Regions from separate parts of the Homo sapiens genome. Here region 1 is linked to region 2. The links come from fine-mapping of genetic effects on gene expression. A gene starts in region 2. The other region holds a variant in brackets. All regions are shown on one strand. Distances are between the middles of the regions.

Region 1 (5,542 bases), 260 kb after region 2:
ATATGTACATTCATAAATAAAAAGTATAAAGTCACAGAAAAATGTGGTGTGTGCGTGTGTGTGTGTGCATGTGTGTGTATGTGTGTGTGCGCATGTGTGTGTATGTGTGTGTGTGTGTGTGTTGATACGGAAGCTAAACAAAAATATTTTAAACATATTTTGAGTGTATTACATAGTAAATATTTCAAATATATTTTTAAACATATTAAAACGTATTAGAGAGTAAATATAAATTGTTAAAGAATACTATATTAAAATTGAAATTATTAAAATATAGTTATATATTAAATAAAATACATTAACTTTTGAAAAATTGTGTTTCAAAATTTCAGCTATAATGCATCCCCATTTCTAAAATATTATAATTTACATGAATATGCCAAGATAACTGGATTTTGAAGGAAGTGGATTTTCAATTTATGCTTTTTATTCTTTCAAAAATTTTTTGTATTAAAAAATATTTTTAAATTGATGCATAATAATTGTACATATTTATGGTGTATAGTGTCATATTTTGCAATGTATGCATTATATAATGATCAAATCAGGGCATTTAGGCCGGGAGCAGTGGCTCGCGCCTGTAATCCCAGCACTTTGGGAGGCTGAGGTGCAGATCACGAAGTCAGAAGTTCAAGACCAGCCTGTCCAATATGGTGAAACCCCATCTCTACTAAAAAAATACAAAAATTAGCCAGGCATGGTGGCACGTGCCTGTAGTACCAGCTACTCAGGAGGCTGAGGCAGGAGAATCGCTTGAACCCAGGAGGTGGAGGTTGCAGTGAGCTGAGATCGCACCAATGCACTCTAGCCTGGGCGACAGAGTGAGACTCGTCTCAGGAAAAAAAAAAAAAAATCAGGGTATTTAGCATGCCATCACCTCATATATTTATCATTTCTTTGTGGTGAGAACATTCAAAATTCTCTCTTCTAGCTGTAGAAAAATATACATATTTTAATACATAATATAATGTTTTAGCATATAATATAGAGTAATATTTAATATAGAATATTTTGAAATCTACAATACGATCTTATTAACCGTAAGTCACCCTACTGTGCAAAAGAACATTAGAATTTACTACTCTATCTTATTGCAACTTTGTATCAATTGACTGAATTCTCCTCATACTCCCCTCTCCTGGTTAACTACTGGTTTCCAGGAGTTTCTGGTAACTAATATTCTACTCTTTATTCCTATGAGATAGACTTCTTTAGATTCCACATATGAGTGAAACGTGGTGTTTGTCTATCTGTGCCTGTTTATTTCACTTAATGCATGTCCTCGAAGTCCAACAAATGCATGTTATTTGTTGCCACAAATGACAGGATTTCATTTTTTATGACTGAATAGTATTCCATTGTGTATATATGCACAGTCCTTTATCCATTCATCCATTGATGAATACTTAGGTTGATGAGATATCTTGGCTATTGTGAACAGTGCTGCAATAAACATGGGAGTGAAGATATCTCTTAGACATACTGATTTTAATTTCTTTGGATACATAGGCAATAGTGGGATTGCTGGATCATATTTTAATTTAATCTAATTTAATTTGATTTAATTTAATTTTAATCTATTTTCATTTTTTGAGGAAGCTTCATACTGTTTTCAGTAATTGCTGTACTAATTATATTCTCACCAACAGTGTATAAGAGTTCCCCTTTCTCCACATCCATGCTAGCATTTGTTATTTGTTATTTTTTACATAGTAGCCATTCTAATTGGGGTGGGGGGATATCTCATTGTGGCTTCGATTTGCATTTCCACGATGATTAGTGATGTTGAGCATTTTTTCATTAAATCAGATAATAATAATTAATTATTATTATTACTAAGGAGTGGTTTGAGTTCCTTATACATTCTGGATATTAACCCCTTATCAGATGAATAGTTTGCAAATATTTTCTCCCATTCTATAGATTGTCTCTTTACTCTTTGGATTGTTTCCTTTGCTGTGCAGAGACTCTTTCGCTTGATGTAATCTCATTTGTTTGTTTTGGTATTCTGGGCTTTTGAGGTCTTATCCAAAGATCCTTGCCTACACCAATGTTATAAAGCATTTCCTCTATGCTTTCTTCTAGTAGTTTTGTCATCTTGGGTCTTACATTTAAATCTTGAGTCCATTCTGAGTTGATTTTTGTTATATGATGAAAAGATAGGGTCTATCTAGCTTCATTTTTCTGCATGTGGATATCCGGTTTTTCCAGCACCATTTATTAAAGAGACTGGCCTTTCCCCAGTGTGTGTTTTTGGCACATTTGTAGAAAACCAATTAGCTGTAATTGTGTAGATTTATTTCTGGGTTCTCTATTTTGTTCCATTGGTCTATATTAATTTTTAAGCCAGTACCATGCTGTTTTGGTTACTATAGCTTTGTAGTATATTTTGAAGTCAAGTGGTATGGTGCCACCAGGTTTATTCTTTTTTCTTTTATTCTTCTTGTTCAAAGACCGCAAAAGCACAGTTCAAAGTGGCTTTAGCTATTTGGGGTTTTTGTGTGTGTGTGTGTGGTTTCACATGCATTTAGGAATTATTTTTTCTATGTGAA[T/G]CATATCATTAGTATTTTGATTGCATTGAATCTATAGATTGCTTTGGGTATCATAGACTTTTAAACAATGTTAATTCTTTCAATCCACAAACATGGATATCTTCCCATTTATTTGTGTACTTTTTAATATATTTCAACAATGTTTTATAGTTTTTATTGTAGTGATCTTTCACCTCCTTGGTTAAATTTATTCCTAGGTATCTTTTTTTTGTAGTGATTATAAATGAGATTGCTTTCTTGATTTTTTTCAGATAGTTTGCTATTGGCATATAGATACACTACTGATTTTTGGATGCTGATTTTGTATATTGCAACTTTACTGAATTAGTTTATTGGTTCTGACAGTTTTTTTGGTGGTGTCTTTAGGGTTTCTATATAAAAGGTCATGTCATCTGTGAACAGGGACAATTTGGCTTTCTCCTTTCCAATTTGTATGTCTTCTATTTCTTTGTCTTGCCTACTTGCTCTGATTAGCACTTCAGTACTATGTTGAATAAATGTGTTAAAAATGGGCATTCTTATATTTTTCCAAATCTTAGAGATGAAGCTTTCAACTTTTCCCTATTCAGTATGATGTTAGCTGTCAGCTTGTCATATATGGACTTTATTGTTTTGAGGTATGTTCCTTGTACACCTGGTTCAAGAGTTTTTATCATAAAGCCTGTTGAATTTTATCAAATGCCTTTTATTTGTCATGTAGTTTTTGTCCTTGATTCTGCTAACATGATATATCATGTTTATTGATTTGTGTATGTTGAACCATCCTTGCAACCCTAGGACAAATTTCACTTGATCATAGTGAATGATCTTTTTAATGTGCTATTGAATTTGGTTTGCTATATTTTTAAGAGTTTTTGTATCTATGTTCATTAGGGATATTGGCCTGGAGTTTTCTGGTTTTGTTGCATTTTGTCTGGTTTTTGGTATAAGAGTAACAATGGCCTTGTAGAATGAGTTTGGAAGAATTTCTTCCTCTTCAATTTCTAAAATACTATGATTTACATAAATATGCAAAGATAACGGGAGTTTCAAAGAAGTGAATTTTTAATTTTCCCTGTTTAGTCTTGTAAAAATAAAAAAGTTAACATATAACCATGTGAAAATGTAATATATAATTATGACTATATGTTACTTTAACATTTAAAAGGGTTAAATAAATTTTGGAAGTAAATTTTTAAAATTAAGCTTCAGTTTAATGTCATTTGTTTTTTCATGTTTTCTCTGTCTTCTAAGTAAAAAGAAAAGATACTCAACCCACTAACTCATTTAACAATTGACTTATTGTCCCTGATAGTTAAGGAGTTGAGAAAAGAAAGATGGAATTATAGATTGGAGAGACTAAAGAATGAGAAATATTTGGATTTATTGATAAAATAAGTTTTTCTTAGGCCATTTTTTTTCTGGTAAAATTGAAAGATGGCTACATTTACTCATGTGATTCTCTCTGCATAACTGAAAAATCTTAAGGGATTCTGAGTGATGACATCAATGGGTAATATTTAAAACTAGAGCAAGTGGGAAATTGATTTTCACCTTCTGCAGTTCTTTATAAAAGTTGGAAGGAAGAACAAGACCCTAGATATCTCATTGTAATAACTATTAGAATTAAGCTACCAACAGCAATGATCTTGTTTTCTCCATGTCCACAGGGATCCAGCTCTTGGGAGAGTAGAACTGATTAACATGTTCTTCCTATGCTGCATGCAACTATTAAAAAGTTTCAAATGACTTTTGTTATAATTCATAAAATAGAACACTCTCTGGGGTTATCTGCCTTAGAAGAGAAACAGTCAATTAATGACTGATTACAGTGGAGAGCTAAAGTGAGTCAGCTCCTGTCACTGTTGTCTTCCCTTTGCTTTACAGTTGCATCTTAGAGCTATTCAGCAGCCCTGGGGATTTACCCAATATTATTATTCACCCCATCAAATCTGAAACTTTCCCATTATAACTCAAATAATCATCCCCTCACTTCTGGATGGCATTTTGATGAGTAGAGATTTAGTGAGAGTATCTAGGAGAGCTATTCTCTATCACTGACTTTTTTGTTCTATGCTTATCCTTCAGGAATAATTCCCATAAAATCTTATAATGCAGAATGACTCTGGGATATGCAATATATTTCTATTCATTAAACATTTTCAGGCACTGTGAAAGACACTTGGGATGTAAATAAACGTTACATATGTTCCCTCAAGGATCTCACAATCCAGAGAAAGGTAAGAATGAGGAAATTACAATATTGTGTCACAATTACTATCTTATCCAAGACAGTGAAAAAGATGAACATTGGATTATTTATTCTATTATGTTTGTTAACTGCTTATTATTTTTCCATTCTTTGATATTTTCATTTCCATTAAGTATTGTGTTTACTGCTATATTCCCCTCTGTGTAATCCCTTCTATTAAGTATGAGTTAGTCTTATTGATGATGGCAGGAGGCAGATAGGTTCCTAGGTGGGAAGGGGCGGGTCTGCAGTGAGGCCCGACCTTCAAGCCAAGGATGGCCTGAAGCCTGGGGGTTGGGTTGCCAGTTCCAGATGGAGTCCAAGACATAGAGTAAGAACTTCCTTGATGCCTTTTGGACAATCAGGTGATGCTTTTTCCTGGCCCACCCATTGACCAATCAACGTGCACTTTCTCCATGGACCAATTCTCCTGCCCAGCATGTACTTCCTCCTTTTCGAGGACGGGCTCATAATAACCTTCCTGGGGTTATTCTGAGCCCATAAAAACCCCAGATTCAGTCCAACCCTGCCTGTGAATAGGAGCTACCCACTTCAGGTCTCTGCTGAGAACTGTTCTGTTGCTTAATAAAGCTCTTCTTCACCTTGCACACCCTCCAGTTGTCCACATAACCTCATTCTTCCTGGACACAGGTCAAGAACTCGAGACCCATGGAATGGCAGGCGTGAAAAGGGCTGTAACACTTCCCTGGCTGGCTCGCTAAGCTATGTGGGCAGTGACACACTCCTGTTTGTCAAACTG
Region 2 (5,000 bases):
AGCCAGGAAGAGGCCTCACCAGAAACCAAACCTGATGGTATCTTGATCTTGGACTACTAGCCTTTGAAAATGTGAGAAAATAAATTTCTGTTAAAGACAACCAGTCTGTGGTATTCTCTTAAGGCAGCGCAAGTAGACTAAACCAAAGCTATTATCAACCCCATTTTGTAGATGAGGGATCTGAGGTCAAGTGGTTAAGTAATCTGCCCAATACAAGCAGCTTCCATGAGGCGATGCCAGGATCTGAACCTGTCTGTCAAACCTTGAAGTCCATTCTCTGAAGCTGTGCTCCACAGCGATCCCTGAAAGCCTTCCTCATGTACCATGCATCAGAAGTCCAGAAAGCTTCCAGGGTGGTACTCAGGGAGAAGTCTGCACGCAGGGAGAAGGGTCAAAGATGAGCACACTAGGCTCTCAGAAGAACTGACCATTACTGCTATCTGGTAAGGAGTCTTTGGGTCTCCTGTTTTCCCAGCTCTGGGTTTATTGTTTGTTTTTGCTTGACCAGGTGGGATTCGTTCAACATCAAATAAATGCTGTCCCTCACCTGTCTCTCCAATAGAATGGCACTTCTGAGCAGAGTCACATGTGAGCTGTGGCTCCTTAGGCTGGGACTGAAGGGTCAGTGGTGTCTGCTCTGCTAGAGGCACCATCTCTTTACAGAGGACTTCTTGTCTGTGTCTGTGGGCCACCATCTGGGGACAAAAAGACAAGATTTGACTTTTGAAGAAATTAACTGTCTGAAATAAACACTTCCAAGAAAGAAGGAAACAGGAAGAGAGTATTTTATCACCAATGTCAAGGAGACACAAAGCAGAAGTGACAAGGATTCTTGGCATGCCAAAATACACATTTTTCTCTAGCAAATCTCCCTTCCTACCTCATGTTGTGGTTCATCGAGCTCTCTCTCCAGATCCTCCAGCAAAATCACAGCCTCTTCTCCACTCTCTGGACAGTGTTCCCTCACCCAGCCCTGGAGCTCCTTGGGCAGAATGGATAGAAACTGCTCCAGCACCAGCAGATCCAAAATCTGCTCCTTTGTGCTCACATGTGGCCTCAACCACTGGTAGCAAAGTTCCTGGAGTCGAGTAAGAGCCTCCCTTGGTCCAGGGGTCTCTTGGTAGCACAGCTGTCGAAAGTGCCTTCGGAAGATTTCCCTTGCCAGTGGATTACTGCGTTTCAGTCTGGATTCCTGCCATTGAAGGTGACTTTTTGCTTCCACTTTCATTGTCAGAAGTTCTTCCCATGCCTCGGGAACTTGAACACCCAGGGATAAAACCTCCTTTGAGTTTGTATTCATCTTGACCTTGAACAGCTTAAAAGGTACCCTCCAGCTGGAGCTATGCTTCAAGACAAACCTTGGAGGCGCTTGCCTAAGCAGTAAAAATAAATTATTTATATAGAAAAATGATAATAGCTGATGACAGAAACTGATAATACAAGCAATTATCATAGGCCCTAAAGCTCTTCTCTGAAAAGTGATTTGGTGACCAAAGGATGGAAATAATGGAAATATATATATTCATAATGTGCTAAGAGCATAAGCTTTTAAGTTACCCAGATATGGGTTTTCTTTCTTTCTTTTTTTTTTAAATGGGGAATTTCACTCTGTTTCCCAGGCTGGAGTGCAGTGGCATAATCACAGCTCACTGCAACCTCAAACTCCTGGGTTTAAGTGATCCTCCCACCTTGGCTTCCCAAAGTGCTGGGATTACGTCAGCCACCACAGCTGACCCAGACCTAGGTTTTATTCTGATCCTAATATTTACTAGTTGTGTGACCTTGTGCCAAGTTTTTAAATCTTCTTTCAATCTTGATTTCTTTATGTGAAGAAGAAATAGCAATAATGCTTCACAGAGTTCATGGAGGAAAACAGCCCATGAATTAGGGACTGCACCGATCACTCAGAAAGTCTGAATAAAAAGTTTGAACTCACTGTATAAACATCAACTTAGAGAAAGAATAAATGGAAATATTGTTACTGTCGACTAAATGAACGAACCAACATTTACTTTACTATTTACTTCAGTTTTCTTAATCTTCAAAACAACCATTTAAGGTTAGTATTATTTTCACTAAATTTACAGAAAGAAAGGCTTAGGTGGATTCCAAGTCCTGGAGCTTTCCACACCGCCCTGCTGCTACTGAAGAATAACAGTCAACACTGCACAAGTCTACAATATGCTTTCAGATACAAGACTATATTTCATCCTCACAATTACCCACTGAGGTTTTATTATAATAATTATTTCACTAGATAAGAAATGGAAGCCAGGGAAAGTTAAGTAGATTGCCCAAGGTCAACTTCTTTTTGAGGACAATCCTAAGAAGCCAAAGAAGCCCAAGGGAAAAGTTTTCTCCACAGACGCAGGAAGCACCTGAAACCCATGGGGGTGTTCCCAAAATGTGTGTCTCCAAAATGCCAGGAAGCACAGCGCAGCAGCTGAATTCCAGCTTGAAAGGCCCTATGGCAGACATCTGGGGAATCTGAATTGGGAGGTGGAGAGAAGTACAGGGAGACCCAGAATATGCCCTTTAACGGGCTCCTCAGTGATTTGTATGTATTATAAGGTTTGAGAATCAATGAACTAAGGAAAAGGGAATCGGGAACTGCTACATTCTGCGCTTGAAAACCAGTCCATTCAACGCCCCTTAATTTGCTTTCAGAATCTAGAGGTAAGAGGGTATACAGGTTCTCCATCGTGAAGGCTGCCAAAGTCTTAATTGTCCTTAACTTCCTCTCCCGGGTGTTTCTTTCCCTGAGTCCTAAGCCTGTTGTCGTTATTCACCGAGGTGACCCTTCAGCCTCGCAGTCCTCCTACAACCCTTTCTTGTACAATGTCCCCACAGCTGGGGATGACCACTCTGGTCTAGGGGACGCCCGAAGCCGCCCGGCACTGACCGCCGCCCCCTCCTCCGGCTCCCACTTCCCAGCGGCTGAGGTTCACTTTCCACACCCCTTTTCCAGCCCCACCCTCCCTGACCCGCCTCCATTCCCGGTCCCCACAGCCAACTCACGAGACCCGGAACGCGCAAGGAGGGAGAGGGGGTTACCGGCCCGGCGTTGCTAGAAGCGCGGCACGAACAATGGCCGGGCAGGGAACAAAGATGCCGACCTCTCCTCGAAGGCGGACGGAGCAGAGGCACTTCCGGGCCGGTCTAGGATTCCATGTCTCGATGTCCGGCGTTCACCTTGCTTCGGACTCAACCCCCAATTTCCTGGCGTCCAGTTCTTTTTCAGCAGTGAATCACATAATCAGAATGTCATACGTGTGTGGGCCGCACACAGGTTTTAAACGGAAAACGTTGATGAAGCATAGACCGTTAACTATTGAAAATGATGATTTTTAAAAGCATTTTTAAAATTAATACATTATTTATGGTTTAAAAACCCTCAGACAATACCAAAATTAATAAAGTAAAATGTCAAACCCCACCTACCCCTCCTTAGTCCCACTCCCCGAGGCAGCCACTGTCACCGTTAGCCTGGAATTTGTATATCATTGTGATCCTCTCTCACACACACAATGGCATTATTTTATATTTAGCCTTTTCTCCCCCGCTTATTTTAACGTTTTCACTTCATGTATCCTAAAAAGCTTTACTCATCATGTAAGTCTAACTTATTGTATGGGTGCATAACAGTCCATAAAGCAATTTATTTGTCCAGGCCCCTATGTATTCTTTATTTAGGCATCTGCCTGCGTGCTTGCCTTCTTTCCTCCCTCCCTTCCTCTTTTCCTACCTTCCTCCCTCCCTTCCTGCCTTTCTCCCATCCTCCTTTCCTTTTCTTTCTTTCTTGTTTTTGTTTTTTGTTGTTTTTTTTTTTTGCTGTAAAAGTTTTCTGGAGTTTTAGTAATAATAATACAAAATCAAACCAAAACCAATTAAATAAATTTGTCACCCAGGCTGGAGTGCAGTGGCACCATCATAGCTCACTGCAGACTGCAACTCCTGGCTCAAGCAATCCTGCCTCAGCCTCCTGAGTAGCTGGGACTACAGTCACATACCACCATGCCCAGCATTTTTTTTGGGGGAGGGGGGTAGAGACCAGGGTCTCGCTTTGTTGGCCAGGCTGGTCTCTAACTCCTGACCTCAAGTGATCCTCCCACCTCCGCCTGGCAAAGTGCTGGTACAGGCATGAGCCACCATGCCCAGCCTTAAATAAATTTTATTGGTACAAAAGAGCGTAATTGTAGGTACTGTTAGTCATTCATCAGTTTTACTATGCCAACCAGAATGATGGTGTCACGTAGATTAAACTATATTCTGTTTGTTTTAACAGAATCTTATCATTTATTTTATTAAAGCAGTAAGAAAGTATCTTGTGTGTTAATGGAGGCTCCATGATCTGTTTTAACTCCAAAACGGTAGTAGCTCGGAAAATTTCTTTATTATTTTCCTCAACCTAGCCTTCTGAGGGCATTAAATAAACCCAAGCTTTATGCTTTACTTCTTTTTCTTTCAAATATCCAATAAGTATATAATCAATAAGAGCACTAACATGCAGAAAATTTGCTCAAAAATCCTCATCACTTTTTCCACCATACCATGTTCACTTGCAAATCCCTCATTACAAACTTTCCTAACAAACTATGAAATGAGAGTAAATGCTCAATTTCTCTTGGACTTGAATAGACTGTTTAAATATGTTATTCTTTTCCATTTTGTATGACCATCTGTGACAAGTAAATGCAATTTAATATTTGTATGAAACTTCTTAAATGTCTCACTGGCAGTTGGTTAGGGTCTCTCACTGGTTTATATGTGCTTGCTAAGTGGGTCAACTATAGGGCTCAGGCAGGCTCCAGCCCAGAGTCAAGTGGGCAGCACGTTGGACTTCACAATGGTTAGCCCTGAGAGAGACTGGCTTTCATTTGTCTGTTTCCGGGAAGATTCCACTATAGCAGTACTTTGATGAGTATCCTGGGACAGAAGGGATTATTTTTAACATATAACTGGGAATCCGTACTGAATATTGAAAATGCCACACCAACTCA

Evidence for each region.
Region 1: its variant is fine-mapped to the expression of ZSCAN9 in whole blood (INTERVAL, PIP above 0.99).

Annotation. Positions count from the first base shown.
Region 1 is chr6:27,967,468-27,973,009 of GRCh38, reverse strand. No RefSeq gene overlaps it. Among named protein-coding and RNA genes, the nearest start is that of OR2B6, 13 kb to the right of the region's middle. The variant T/G (reference allele first, on the strand shown) is at 2,553.
Region 2 is chr6:28,223,385-28,228,384 of GRCh38, reverse strand. It overlaps ZSCAN9 (zinc finger and SCAN domain containing 9), which reads right to left and starts at 3,110. Exons shown (of 4, transcript NM_006299.5): 1 at 3,019-3,110; 2 at 881-1,373; 3 at 548-695. The coding sequence starts at 1,300. RefSeq lists an enhancer at 3,206-3,305.